2 linked regions of the Homo sapiens genome follow. The protein of the gene in region 1 interacts with the protein of each later gene in a pairwise test. Each region holds a gene or a part of one and is shown on either strand. Other genes may lie near its edges.

Region 1 (7,476 bases):
GAAGAAAGGGGACGGCGGCCCCTGGTGCCAAGGGCGAATAGGGAGCTGGGGCGCCCAGGCCTCACCTGGAGGGACCCCGGAGCATGCAGCATGGCTCTTTTTTTGCTGCCCTGTTTGCTGACTCTCCCCTCTCCAGACGCCCCTGCTCGAGTCCTTGCTACACACGCCCTGGGATTGTTGCCTCTTGGGGAAGTGCTAGCCTGACTAGTTGTCAGGGGCCCCGTATTTCTGCCATGACTCAGTCCCTAATTTGCTCTTTGATTCTGGACAAGCCACCTCTCCTTTTTGGGCTCATGTTTCCAGAGGAAGTAGTGAGTATCAAAGGTCTCTGTTAGCTCTCGAGTCTGAGATTTAAAGGCCTCCTAGAATGGAAACCTCAGGGCCAAAGGCTCCTGTCTGTCCTTTTCCGCCCTAAATCTTCTGTGAAGAACCGTACTTGGCCCGTACGTGCTCAGTAAATGTTTATTGAATGAATGCACTTTTCTAAATCACAAGCTGGCAGAAGGGGGGGCCTTTCTCAAACTCCATCTCTAGAGGTTTATGTTACTGTCCTGTCAAGAGATTCCAGATTCAGACCTTGAGTTCTGTGGCTGTGGACAAAAGCCAACAAAGACCCAAATCCTCTGTCCTTGGGAGCTTGAGGAGAGTTTACCAGTTCGAGTTCCCACTGGGTCTGAGAACTTTGCCTTTAAAATCCATTCCTGGCCCCTGCCTACCACTTCCTGCTCTGGGGAATAGAGTTGAGGGGGCCACCCTCCATCACCTTAATGTGACTCTCCCCACAGAAACAACAGAATAAACAAGTGGAACATCAGCTGGAAGAAGTAACATGATTTCTTTGTTTGCTCGCGACATGACTGCTCGGTTTGGGGGACACTCAGATGTAGAGGCCCCGAGTCTCGTCTCACCCACTCCCAGCCTGGGGAAGAAGGCTCACCCCCCAGAGTCCACCCCATCCCCCACAGGGTCCCTGATAACCCGGTCCCATGGGTGGGCCTGTCCCGGGGCAGGGGCAGTGGTGGCATTCTGGGGACATGTCTCTTGCAGTACCATCTCTGCCTCTGCCTGGTTAGATCTCTGTCTTCCTCTTCCTACAGGAAAAGAAAGCAAACAACGAGAAACAGAAAGCCGAAAGGGAGCTAGAGGTGAGTGGACGGTGTGCAGTTTTCTCCTGTCCTCCGGAGAATGTTTCTTTCCTTCTCTTTCAGCACTTGCTTGGCTTTTCTCCCAAAGGTTCAAATCCAGAGATTGAACATACAGAAAGGGAAACTAAATACGGACCTGTACCACACGAAACGTTCTCTCAGATACTTTGAAGGTGGGAATCTGGGTACCCTGTCATCCTTCAACCTGGCACTTTGACAGGTCTTCAGGGGGAGTCCTTTGGGCCCCATCTCAACTCTCTCATTACAGAAGAGTCCAAGGATCTGGCCGTCCGTCTGCAACATTCATTGCAGCGTAAAGGAGAGTTAGAGCGGGCTCTCTCTGCTGTCACCGCCACACAGAAGAAGAAGGCGGAGAGGGTGAGTCCAACCACCTGCCCCGTCCCCTGGGAGCCTGGCTTCGCAGACAGAGGAGTGAGCCTAAAGGTCCCTTCTGCAGGATGGAGTGTCCTGCCCAGAAGGCAGCATGGCCATTTCTCACTGCTTTTTTGTATGGTTGTTAGCGGCAGCTTGGGACTGAGTCAGCTGCTGTGGGTGAGTTGGGGGGCACTCTGGGGAGAGAGCACAGGACGTAGAGCTTGGAGGCCAAGTGCCTGCCATGCCTTTACCTGGCTGTGGTCTTGGCCAAGTCCTCAGTGGGTATTGGGTACTTGTACTGTGAAGGTACAGAAGAGTACCTTTAGTATGTTACCATTTCTGTAGAGAGAGGAAACGTGTGTGTGTGTGTACATATTATGATAATATACATAAAATATGTTTGCAAGTGTTCATAAAAACTCAGGAGAGAGCAACAGGGTGGCTGGGAGATACTTCCCTTCTGTACCTTCTGAGTTTGGGACTATGTGAATGTATTATCCTTTCAAAAAGTGAACAAAAGATTAATTTTCCCCTTCCTAGCTGTGCCCCCACCCCCAGCAAGAAAAATGGGCTTAGAGAATTGGATAGATCTGGGTGTTTAAATCCCAGCTCTGCCTAAGTGATCTTAGGCAAGCACTTAACCTCAAATACTCCATGTTTTTTCATCTACACAATAGAGGTCATCATAGTAACTGTCTCCCATGGTGGTTGCGAGGATTAAATGGGATTGCTAGCATGGTATCTGGTGAAGCACTCCATAAAAGTTCAAACAGTGGTAATAATAACAGTAATAACAATAGCAATATTATCTGATCTCTCTGGGCCTCTGTTAGCCAGCTATAAATTCGATCTCTTTCCCTGTCCCTTCCAACTTTACTGAGTTCTTTAAAAACCAAACCACGGGCTTGGAAATGCCTTGATCTTTACTGACCGAGTTGTATATTGGGCCTAGCCCTGGCCCTTTTAAGGGGCACTGTGTGGAATGGCCCGGCCTCACCAGATTGAAACTTCTCACTCTTCAGCAGTTCTCCAGCCGCAGTAAAGCACGTATGGAGTGGAAGTTAGAGCAGTCCATGCGGGAGCAGGCACTGCTGAAAGCGCAGCTGACACAGGTGAGGTGTTCAGAAGGAGGGATGTGGAAGAAAGATGACCCCAGGTAACCAGGAGCAGGTGAGGACCAGTGACAGCCCTTCCTAATTTCTGTGCCCATTCTTGCAGTTGAAGGAGTCACTTAAAGAAGTCCAGCTAGAGAGGGATGAATATGCTGAACATCTAAAAGGAGAGAGGGCCCGGTGGCAGCAGAGGATGAGAAAAATGTCGCAGGAGGTGAGATCTGACCCTTCAGCCCCCCCACATTAGATAGGTCACTGGATCTTTCTGGGCACCTGTAAAATGGGAATAGTAGAGCCAGAGGTGGTCCTGGGACTGGGCTTTGTGGAGGTGGGGGCAGAGAGGGAGATGGTAGCATGTCCAGCCTCCAGCCCCTCTCTCCAGGGCCCTTTCCCCCTGTGCTTTGGGCAGGTTTGCTCGTTGAAGAAGGAGAAGAAGCATGATAAATATCGGGTAGAGAAGCTGGAGAGGAGCTTGTCCAAACTCAAACACCAGATGGGTAAGATGGGGCTGGCGTGACCTGGCAGCAGGACTGGCATCAGAGGGCTGTGAGGGTGGCTTGGAGTGCCCCAGCGAGGTGGGTGGATGGAAGGGCTTTGAGGCAGAGGGAAAGAGGTCTGTGCCAGGAGACGGCAAGTCTTGTCATCTCAATGAGCCTCAGTGTCCCCATCAGCAAAGAGGGCCCGTTGTCAGCCACCCGCAGTGCTCTTTCTCTGAAAGTGCTTTGGAAGACTGGCTACCATCTGGGTGCGAGGAATCATTAGCAGTGAGGCTAAGTTTGAGGAGCCGGAGAGGAGCTGTGCGCCAAGAGGAGGGTTTTTTCTTTTCTTTTCTTTTTTTTTTTTTTTTTTTGGAATCCAGAGGCTCTTATTGTCTGCTTCCTTTCTCAGCTGAACCTCTGCCCCCGGAGCCCCCAGCAGTGCCCTCTGAGGTGGAGCTGCAGCACCTGAGGAAGGAACTAGAGAGAGTGGCAGGAGAGCTCCAGGCCCAGGTGGAGTACAATCAGCGCATAAGTCTCCTGAATGAGGGGCAAAAGGAGAGGCTTCGGGAGCAGGAGGAGAGGCTTCAGGAGCAGCAGGAGAGGCTTCCAGAGCAGGAGGAGAGGCTTCAGCAGCTGGCCGAGCCACAGAACAGCTTCAAGGAGCTGGTGCGTTGCCCCAGCTGGGGAGCCTGCCCTCCTCCCTAGCCCTCCAGGCCTTTGTTTCCCCACCTATAAAATGGGGCAGTGTAGCCCTCAAGTGAAATGTTACTCCTAAAGGCACCTGTGAGCCAGAGCCCTGCTCTGGTGGCTGTGGGAGACAGGGGATGATTTTTCTAACCTGCCTCCACCCTTCCCGGTGCCATGGGAGGCAGTCACCAAGTTCTGGGGTCTCCAGCTGCAGTGGGTGGCTGCTGATTGCTTCTCTCTGTCCAGAACAATGAGAACAAGAGCGTACTACAGTTGGAGCAGCAAGTAAAGGAGCTGCAGGAGAAGCTAGGCAAGGTGAAGGAGACGGTAACCTCCACCCCATCCAAGAAGGTCTGGGAGGTGGGTGGGCACCAGCCTCTGGGGAGGGGAGGTGCCAGTCCAGCGGTAGCTCCAGCCCGGGGGCAGGTGACCCCAGCACCCTCCAGGGCAGTCCTGTGGCTGTTTCTTGCTTCCTGCCCTCTGATTTTAGAGGTGGGTAGCCCTGGGCTCCTCCCAGGTCTGGACATCATCATTCCAGCTAGAGACATGGAGCCCCCCCAATCACAGGGGAAGAGACAGAGTGGTATAACAGTCTTCTTATGCCAGATGCGGTGGCTTACGCCTATAGTGCCAACACTTTGGGAGGCTGAGGCAGGAGAATCACTTGAGGTTTGGAGTTTGAGATCAGCCTGGCCAACATGGTAAAACCTCATCTCTACTAAAATTACAAAAACAAAAAACAAAAAAAGAAAGAAAAATTAGTGGGGCATGGTGGTGGCGCATGCCTGTAATCCCACCTACTCAGGAGGCTGAGGCACGAGAATTGCTTGAGCCCAGGAGGTGGAGGTTGCAGTGAGCTGAGATTGCACCACTGCACTCCTGCCTGGGCCACAGAGTGACACTCTGTCTCAAAACAAAACAAAAAGACTCCTTAGATTAAAACTGGATTCCAGCCTCAGTTCCACTGGTCACCATTCAAGTACTTCGCATCTCTAAGTCTCTGTTTCTTTAACTTCAAAAGGAAGTTAGCATTTTCCTTACAGAGGTGCTGAGGATTAAATGAGATAATACATGGGAAGCATTAGGCCTGTAGCACATTTAGCAGATGGTGGTTGGCTCCCATACTTTTCTACCATTCTGTGGCCTACAGTTGAAATGGTGGGAAGAGGACATGAGATTTGAGGCTGGGGAAGGAGGCATGGGGTTCTAGGAAAGCAAGGCAGTCACTTAGGCCTGAAGTAAGGGGCCAGGGGCCTGGGCAGGCGACAGAGCCCCACAGTGCCCTCGCTACCCTATTAATGGGCCCAGAATCTGCAAACCAGCCACCACGTGCCCTCACACCCAGGGTCTTCCTGCAGGTGGAGCTGAAGAGCCAAGAGGCTCAGAGTCTGCAGCAGCAGCCAGACCATTACCTGGGTCACCTGCAGCAGTACGTGGCCACCTATCAGCAGCAGGTGGCCGCCTATCAGCAGCTGACCTGTGAGAAGGAGGCGCTGTACAGGCAGTGACTGCAGCAGACCCAGCTAATGAACCAGTTGCAGCAGCAGGAAGCTTGGGGCAAAGCGGTGGCCGAGATGGCCTGCCAAAAGTTGCAGGAGACCCAGGGGAGGGAGCTGCCGAGGATGGGGCTGTGAGGGGGACGACCTGGCAAACTCTGTGCCTTCTCACTCTTTCCTGGCCCCTTAGGAGCGTCTGGAAGCTGCGAGCCAGCAGAAACAGCAGCTAACGGCCCAGTTGAGCCTCATGGCTCTCCCTGGGGAAGGTACGGGAGACCGCTCAGAGGAAGAGGAGAGAGCCCCAGGAGGAAGGGGGGACTGCTAGCAGCATAGGATTGAGGAGTTGGAAGAGACCTTTAGAACAGCTGGTCATTATACTAACCGGGTGCCTGCACTAAGTTCAGCATCAATATGGTGACCTCCTGTGAGCGGGGGGCCACCAAGTTGCCTAAGGATGGCTGAACTGGCCGAGGTCAGAAAGGGAGCAGGTCAGAACTCCCGCACCGACCAGTAGTGGGAATGTGCCTGGGCAGTATAGCAAGATCTTGGTTCTTCAAAGTAAAAATAAATAACAGCAGCTCATTCCTCTCTGGGGAGGGCCTGGCTCAGGGTTACACAATGAGGGTGGAGGCAGAGGTGGGCCCACAATACTTCCCTTGTTGAGTTGTCTGAGGACCCCTCTGGCCACCACCCCCACCCCCAGGAGATGGAGGAGGACATCTGGACAGTGAGGGGGAGGAGGCACCTCGGCCCATTCCTAGCATCCCACAGGACCTGGAGAGCAGGGAGGCCATGGTGAGCCTGACTCCACCTGAACCCATTTTGCCTCCTTCCTCTGTGGTCCCTCCAAGACCCCTTTATGCTCTTCGTTTCCCTGCCTTCTGATTTCTCTGGACCCTCACCCCTTCTGGGAGCCAGTGGTCAGACACCATTTCACCTGTGACCAACATGTGCAGTCTCTGGGGCCCCAAGGGAAGGGGCTGCGCTCCACCTCTCTGCCCCATTTGTTCTGTGTATGCCCCTGCAAGAATGCTCACATCTTGCCCTCAGGTGGCATTTTTCAAGTCCGCTGGAGCTAGTGCCCAGGAGAAGCAGGCACAGTTACAAGAGCAGGTGAAAGAGCAGAGGGTGTGCTGCCAGCGCCTGGCTCACCCGGTGGCCTCGGCCCAGAAGGAGCCAGAGGCAGCCAGAGGCCCTGGAGCCCCAGGGCCTGGGGGCGAGTCTGTGAGTGGGGAGACCCACCGGGCCCTGCAGGAAGTCACGGAGAAGCTGGCCCATGCCGGAACTCACCTCCGCCTTCTCCATGACTTGAAAATGCCACCTGAGGGCAGGTCGCTGGCGAGATGTGACCCCATTATTTTGGCTCCAGAGCGGCTTTATGGACCACCTGGAGGAGAAGGCAGACCTGAGTGAGCTGGTGGAGAAAGAAGAACTTGGATTCTTCCAGTACTACAGAGAGAGATGCCATCAGTGAGTGGGAGGCCAGGGCATGGCAGGGGGAGCTGCAGGGCTGTTGGAGGGGCCCCAGCGTCTGAGCCCTGTCCTCCCGCAGGAAAGTTTATCACCCTATAACAAAGCCAGGGGGCAGTGCCAAAGATGCAGCACCGGGAGGAGGACACCATCAGGCTGGCCCTGGACAGGGAGGAGATGAAGGTAGAGTGTGCAACATCTCTGCGGGGGTGGGGGTGGCTGTGACGGTGAGCGCTGGCAGCAGCGTGACAGCTGAGCACCCCTCCCTCCAGGTGAAGCTGCTGGAGCTGCAGGAGATGGTGTTGCAGCTGGTGGCGACTACAAGGGACACAGCAAATTCTTGGTGACTGCCCAGAACCCTGCTCATGAGCCCAGTCCAGGAGCCCCAGCCCCCCAGGAGCTTGGGGCTGCCCACAAGCATGGTGGTGAGTAGAGCCCTCAGGCGGGGTGGGCAGGCAGGAGCAGGGGGGCTCTCACTGAGCTCAGATCCCCGCCTCCCTCTCTCCAAAGATCTTTGTGAGGTGAGCCTCACTGACAGCGTGGAGCCTGTGCAAGGAGAGGCCAGGGAGGGTTCTCCCCACGACAACCCTACTGCACAGCCGATCGTGCAGGACCACCAGGAGCACCCAGGCTTGGGCAGCAACTGCTGTGTGCCATTCTTTTGCTGGGCTTGGCTGCCAAGAAGAAGGAGATAAACATCACCATCGTCAAA
Region 2 (7,476 bases), on another chromosome or scaffold:
CAATTCTGTTTTGTTATTTTTCAGGAGAGGGTCTCTTCCCAGGGGTAATTGATTTGTTTGGTGGTTTGGGTGGGCTGCTTGAATTTCGGGCCAGCCTCCTAGCCAGTCGTGGCTTCGCCTCCTTGGCCTTGGCTTACCATAACTATGAAGACCTGCCCCGCAAACCAGAAGTAACAGATTTGGAATATTTTGAGGAGGCTGCCAACTTTCTCCTGAGACATCCAAAGGTAATTTTTGTCTTTTCAGTAGGTTTGAGTCCCTGGGGTTTTTTTGTTTCTGTTTTTGTTTTTGTTAAAAGACAGGGTCTTGCTCCGTCACCCAGGCTGGAGTGCAGTGGCATGATCTGACACTTGGCCAGAAGCCAGTGCCTTTTGATACTACAATGTGCACAGGCTAACTTCCTATGCATTTTGTCTTTCTGAGCAAAAGACACTGGATGAGAAATAAATCATGTGAATTATAAATAACATGGGCATGAATAGAATTTCAAGTTCACTGAGAATCGTACTTGGAAGTTAAGAGAAGTCATAGGATATTATGGTTATTTTTTAAAAAGGGACTGGCTGGGTGTGATGGCTCAAGCCTGTAATTCTAGCACTCTGGGAGGCCAAGATGGGAGGATTAATAGAGGCCGACAGTTCAAGACCAGCCTGGGCAACATAGCCAAACTCTTTCTCTATAAATACTAAAAAAATAGCTGGGTGTGGTAGCAGGCACCTGTAGTCCCACTTACTTAGCAGGGGCTGAGGAGGAAAGATCGCTTGAGCCTGGGAGGTTGAGACTGCGGTGAGCCATGTTCCTGCCACTGTACTCCAGCCTGGGTGACAAAGCAAAAAAAAAAAAAGGATAATGCATGCAAAATGCTTATCATAGAACCTGGCAATACTAAGCACTCAAAGATGAACAAATGTTAGACAAAACTTTCTGTGATCTGACTTCTACATACTGCTTCAGCCTTATCTTATAGCTCTAATTATTAACTAGCTATCATTTTTCTCATCACTATACTTAACTGGACAGATAATCTGTATTTCTTTGAAGAATGAGTCTGAATTTTTAGTTACTCATGAGCCCTTAAACATAATACTATTAGTGCTTTCCAATCCATATGCCTTTTAAAATTTTAAAACATGTGCTTTGCTACTATGATATGGGATAGAGTTGGAGTTTATTAAACCTTGTTAATTGCCCAATATTTTTTCTTTCCTTTCCTTTTTTTTTTTTTTTTTTCTTTTTTTGACAGAGTCTCGCTCTGTCACCTAGGCTAGAGGCAGTGGCACAATCTCAGCTCACTGCAACCTCCACCTCCCAGGTTCAAGCAATTTTCCTACCTTAGCCTCCTGAGTAGCTGGGACTATAGGCGCGTGCCACCATACCTGGCTAATTTTTGTATTTTTAGTAGAGACGGGGTTTTGCCATATTGGGAAAGCTGGTCTCCAACTCCTGACCTCAAGTGATCCACCTGCCTTGGCCTCTATTTTTTTTTTTAATAAGAATTGAAATAAAATTAAATCTCCATACTACATGTTTTTTTATATAAGGATCACCAAAATATAATCAGGTTTGCAGAAATAAGATAAGCAACAATTACTGACAATCTACTGATGTAGTGAACATTTTAAATGGCTATTTTTGATGCATATAATGGAACTGCCCTCGAAATGTCAGTCAATATTATCATTGTGAGCCTTCTTCTTGGCTTAGATGAGAAGTGGAGAGGTTATGTGATTCTCTTTTTTCACGGTCTTTGCCTCGTTCCCCTTATATTTGCTGCATGACTTTTTCATCACTGTTCTTGCCAGTGTCACATAGATAGCTAGTTAATGATTAATCCAGGCCTGGAAACCAGATTTTTTTCCCCAGACTCTGAGAAATTCCATTAAACCTACTTCACATTGTCTCTTCTGCAGGATGATAGAACAGAGATCTTTCTTGCAGGTCTTATTTCTCTATGTGTTGATTTTAAGTAACTTCTAAGAACTCATAATTTCCTGATCCCAAATTTTGTGGTAGAAGTTGTAACAAGAGTTACTGTTTTGGCAAGGGACAGAAACATATTAAAAAGCCTGCACAGATATGAGTCATGCTTTTTTGTTCTTTCGTGTTATACTTGCTTTTACTTTATCTTTCATGGCCAAATCCACTCTGAGTTCCCATCTTTCCTTAACATAACTGTCGCTCTCTATCTTATATATTAAGATATAGGATTGGGAGGGGTGGGGGAGAAAGGTAGGTCAAAGGGTACAAAGTTTCTGTTAGACAAGAAGACTAAGATCTGGTGATCTGTTGCACAGCATGGTGACTATAGTTAATAATAATGTATTGTATATTTCCAAATTGCTAAAAGATTAGATTTTAAATGTTCTTACCCCAAAGAAATGGTAAGTTTGTGAGGTAATGGATATGTTAATCAGCCTGATTTGTTCATTCCACCATGTATATATGCACTGAAATATCACATTATGCACCATAAATATGTATAATTATTATTTGTCAATTAAAAATAAAAATTAGGCCAGGCACAGTGGCTCATGCCTGTAATCCCAGCACTTTGGGAGGCCGAGGTGGGCAGATCACCTGAGATCAGGGGTTCAAGACCAGCCTGGCCAACATGGAGAAAACCCAACTCTACTAAAAATACAAAAATTAGCCAGGTGTGGTGGCGGGCGCCTGTAGTTCCAGCTCGGGAGGCTGAGGCCAGAGAATTGCTTGAACCTGAGAGGCGGAGGTTGCAGTGAGCCGAGATTGAGCCACCACACTCCAGCCTGGGTGACAGAATGAGACTCAGTCTCAAAAAATAAAAATAAAGTAAAAAATAATAAATTAAAATTAAAATTAAAAAAATACAGAATTTCAGAGCTTGAAAGGAACTTTTAATTGATTCAAGCCACCCCTGTTAAATATACAGGGTAGGAAATAGAGAGTATATATGACTCATTCCATTTGTTTAGTTTTTTTTTTCCCTCTTACCCTAAGAATTTCTCACATTTTCATCAGCTTGGCATGAGTTGTATATTGATTCATGTGTTTCTAAGTAGTAGGGAAAATATCCCAAACATTGGTTTATAAAATGCCTTTAAAATATAGGAGATCAATTAAAATAAATACAGGAAGTCAACAAAGGTTTTAGAAAAGTGATGCTTCTCTCTAGGACTCTGTCCTTGCCAGGAGCCAGTGCTCAAGGAGAATCGGAGCTTTATTTTGTGACACAACAATTTTCTTTAACTCCTCCTTAGAATTCCCAACCAAATTGGTAACTGGGAGCAATACACTCAATACTCAAAAATAACTCATGAACATGTAGTTTCCTTTTCATTTTTACTGCTGTTACCTTAGTTCAGGACAGTATAATTTTCTGCTTTTATCAGTGCATTAATCTGTGGCTTTTCTGCCTCCATTTATGCAAGTCAGAGTTGTAAACACAACTATTTTACTCGCTTGCTTAAGAGTCTCCCTATTTATTATAGGATAAAGGCCAGGCTTCCTAGCATGTTAGACAAAGCTTCCTATGATCTGACTTCTGCATACTTATTCAGTCTTATCTTATGCCCATCCTTAAAATTTGTCCTAATTTTCCTCCTTAGTTAGGAAAAAAACTGAAGATGCTTAATATATCTTTCAAAGCTATGCACCATAAAGTTGGTGTTTTCTGTTTCAGACTTATTATGTTATTTCCCACCTTATACTCTAAATTAAAATAATGAAGAATGACTTGTGGTTCCTCTAAATGCCTTGCTCTTCATTGCCTCTCAGTTTTTGCATGAGTTTCTCCTATGGTGAATACATTAGGAATGTTTTGGCTACATTTCTCAGAAAAGTGGCTGATGGTGGCTTAAACATCAGCATAAGGTATCTTATTCTCTTACATAACAGGTTTGGTGATAGGTGGTTCAAACTTTGGCTTAGAAACTCAGTGTAGTTTTCAATCAAGGAGATTAGATTGACATTTCTGCAATTTTCTAGCCTTACTCTGAAGGTCACAAAATGACTCTGGCAGTTTCAGGAATTAAGTCAACAGGCCAGCATCCTAGTCTGAAAAGAATGATCATAAACATAGGCTTTCTCTTCATGATTCTGTGTCAGTTTGCACGGGGGGCAAAAAAAGTCCTTAGGTAGAATATGTTGGCCTTGGAAGAGAGGCTGAGAAAGGGAAATAGATTAGGATCCATCAGAATTTATCCCTTGGGGCTGGATATATTGCTATGCCACACAAAATCAAGGTCATATTAGCTTTGAAATTGTGGAGAATGGCTCCTGTGTAGGCAACTAACAGAGTCTGCTATACTCAGCATAGAATACCATTCCTTCTTGTTGACTTTCTTGTAATTTTTATTTCTTGAGACAGGGTCTCACTCTATTGCCCAGGCTGGGGTACAATAGCACAATCATAGCTCACTAAAGCCTTGAACTCCTGGGCTCAAGTGATCCTTCCACCTCAACCTGAGTAGCTGGGCCTACAGGCACACACCGCCATATTCAACTAATTTTTTAGTTTTGTAGAGATAGGGTCTCACTATGTTAACCAGGCTTGGCTTTCATTTTTTAATACGAAGACTCATTTGTTTTGTAGCCCATTTCCTCTGAGAGCCTTTCTTTGATCCTGCCTTTATTCCCTGCTAATCTGGGTTGGCAGTCTAGCCTACATACATTCTCATATCATAGAATTTATGATGCTCCAATCATCTGGTGTGTTTTTTTTTTTCCTCCTGTGTCTTCATCTGGCAGTGAGTTCCTTAATGACAAGAGATTGTTCCTTTTCTCTCTGTGACTCCCAGTGCTTGCCGTAGGATAGATAATTTAAGGATGCTTATTTGATGACTGACAATGAGGGAGGAAGCTGAGCCAAGCCTCCTTTATGACATTTTTCTCCACAATGAGAAAACTTTTGGAAAAAACAAAGCAAATCTAGAATCCTCTGTTCAACTCTATCCTACTGATCTCACTTTCTTTCTCAGTCTCTTCCTACAAGGTGCCCTTTCCTCTGAAGGGAGGAAAGTGTACCAATCATCTATACCCTGACCCACATTATTCACAATAGTCATGTGCCATTTCTTACTTTCCCTGCGACATTTGCATTTCTTTAGGGCATTTTAAACTCAGAACCTAACACAATACTGAATCCGTAATATATAGTCGGTAAAGCTTGACATATTTTTGGAGTATTTCTTTTGAATACATATTATATATTCCAGAACTCTATAGCTAGGGATGTGGGTAGGATTAATACTTGCTTTGTTCTCATTAGCCAGTGAAGTTCTTTGGTTGTTTGAGATTGTGGAGTTTTCCTAAATGAAGGCTAGAATAATTTCTCATTTCTATTATTTTTTTCAGGTCTTTGGCTCAGGCGTTGGGGTAGTCTCTGTATGTCAAGGAGTACAGATTGGACTATCTATGGCTATTTACCTAAAGCAAGTCACAGCCACGGTACTTATTAATGGGACCAACTTTCCTTTTGGCATTCCACAGGTATATCATGGTCAGATCCATCAGCCCCTTCCCCATTCTGCACAATTAATATCCACCAATGCCTTGGGGTTACTAGAGCTCTATCGCACTTTTGAGACAACTCAAGTTGGGGCCAGTCAATATTTGTTTCCTATTGAAGAGGCCCAGGGGCAATTCCTCTTCATTGTAGGAGAAGGTGATAAGACTATCAACAGCAAAGCACACGCTGAACAAGCCATAGGACAGCTGAAGAGACATGGGAAGAACAACTGGACCCTGCTATCTTACCCTGGGGCAGGCCACCTGATAGAACCTCCCTATTCTCCTCTGTGCTGTGCCTCAACGACCCACGATTTGAGGTTACACTGGGGAGGAGAGGTGATCCCACACGCAGCTGCACAGGAACATGCTTGGAAGGAGATCCAGAGATTTCTCAGGAAGCACCTCATTCCAGATGTGACCAGTCAACTCTAAGAAGACTAGATATTCCTAGAAAATAAAGAAGCAAATCTCTTTACCGGGACCTTCTCTCAATTTTCATGGCGGAATGTCTCCCCCAGCTGCCACACACACATTTTGTATTAATTTTAATGATTAAAAAGAGCATAGGGTAAAAACCTGATATTTCACTTATACTGCATAACAAGCTAACCAAACTGGACATGGTGAATAAATCATAAAACAAATCATTTTACTTATTATTTACATGACTTTTCTTTCCATCAGGTCTTCTAAATAGGACTGAGGTATAGTACACTGGCAAAAATAAGAAAAGGCAAACAAGAATAGCACCAAAGTAACAGATATAAAACCAAATACCATGTCAGAAAACACTATATAGTAAGAATTTATCAGATTAGAGCAGCAGGAGAAAATTAATACTAAATTATAATCATTTTAGTGATATTTTTCAACTTCACCACAGTAACTTTGCAACATCATTTTTCATTTGTGGGGTAGTAAAATTCATGTCAAAAAGGAAAGAAGGAATGGAGGAGGTCAGTTAGTTCATTGCAATAAATTACCTCTTCAGTTCTTAAAAACATGCCCATTGGCACATAACTGAGACATAATAACTAAGACTGGAAGAGCCTTGGTTTAAGTTATGAAGCAAATTAAAATGGAAAATACAAGAAAATAGAACCAATTAGGTTGAAAATGCCCCTTACTGAAAATCTGTATTAAAAATAAAATTAATAAAAGTAAAAAATAAAAATAGAAACACAACTCTACTAGTACAGGCTAGCCTGGGGAGTTTGATAAACTGAGTGATTGGGTCAACTATCACTGTACTTCCATAATGAATTTCTTCAGTCATGTTAGAGTAGCACATGAATGTGAGCTCTATAAGGACAGGTACTATATTTCCGTAAGACCCAATAGTTACTGTACATCCCATAAATAAAAAATACTTTAGTTTGCTAACCAACTGAATATATGAGGACTGCATGTAATTCAACCACATGGTTGTTTGCTGTACAGTCCTTTGCAAATATTAAAAAATTTTTTTTGCTATAAGGCTTTGATCATATAGTCCTCATAGCAACATAACTACCATCTAGCATGTACCACATTTTGCAAGACTTTAAGTTCAACATTCCAAACTGCCAATTTGTATTATGTCCAAATGCAGTATCCTTGAGGAATATAGTGGGTCAGTTAAATATCTAGAGACATACAAACATCTGCTAATTCATCTCATTGAGATGGATCATTCTGATCTCCATCATCCACCCACTTTTCATCAGCTTCTCCTACTTCATTCTCCTCATAGTCTTTATCATGAGGGATTCTGTATCCTGTCTCTCATCTACACTTGCTGGCCTTCCTGGTTGTGATTTATTGGAACAGTCTACACAAAAACCATAGGGTCAAGATCCATGTCTTACTCCAACACTGGCTGCTAACATGATCTTACATACCATACATTTGCATTTTTATCCTTCTTGTGCACCAAGAAATGTTTTCTTACATGTTTTCTCCAAGTGTAAAAAGTCACAGCTAAATGATCTCACTCCTGTATGAATAAGC

Evidence for each region. The genes of interacting proteins can lie anywhere in the genome.
Region 2: the proteins of GOLGA8F (region 1) and BAAT interact in binary tests that used the Homo sapiens proteins (3 or more experiments, as listed by UniProt).

What each region holds. Positions count from the first base shown.
Region 1 is NC_000015.10:28,381,605-28,389,080, forward strand, and holds part of GOLGA8F (golgin subfamily A member 8F), read left to right. Parts: intron 1-785; coding exon 786-824; exon of another isoform or gene 825-1,097; coding exon 1,098-1,145; intron 1,146-1,233; coding exon 1,234-1,318; intron 1,319-1,413; coding exon 1,414-1,523; intron 1,524-2,542; coding exon 2,543-2,632; intron 2,633-2,738; coding exon 2,739-2,846; intron 2,847-3,041; coding exon 3,042-3,129; intron 3,130-3,520; coding exon 3,521-3,777; intron 3,778-4,044; coding exon 4,045-4,113; intron 4,114-5,484; coding exon 5,485-5,560; intron 5,561-5,997; coding exon 5,998-6,089; intron 6,090-6,663; coding exon 6,664-6,764; intron 6,765-6,846; coding exon 6,847-6,947; intron 6,948-7,036; coding exon 7,037-7,189; intron 7,190-7,274; coding exon 7,275-7,459; 3' UTR 7,460-7,476.
Region 2 is NC_000009.12:101,360,871-101,368,346, reverse strand, and holds part of BAAT (bile acid-CoA:amino acid N-acyltransferase), read left to right. Parts: intron 1-24; coding exon 25-227; intron 228-5,331; coding exon 5,332-5,919; 3' UTR 5,920-7,476. UniProt on the Homo sapiens protein: Catalyzes the amidation of bile acids (BAs) with the amino acids taurine and glycine. More than 95% of the BAs are N-acyl amidates with glycine and taurine.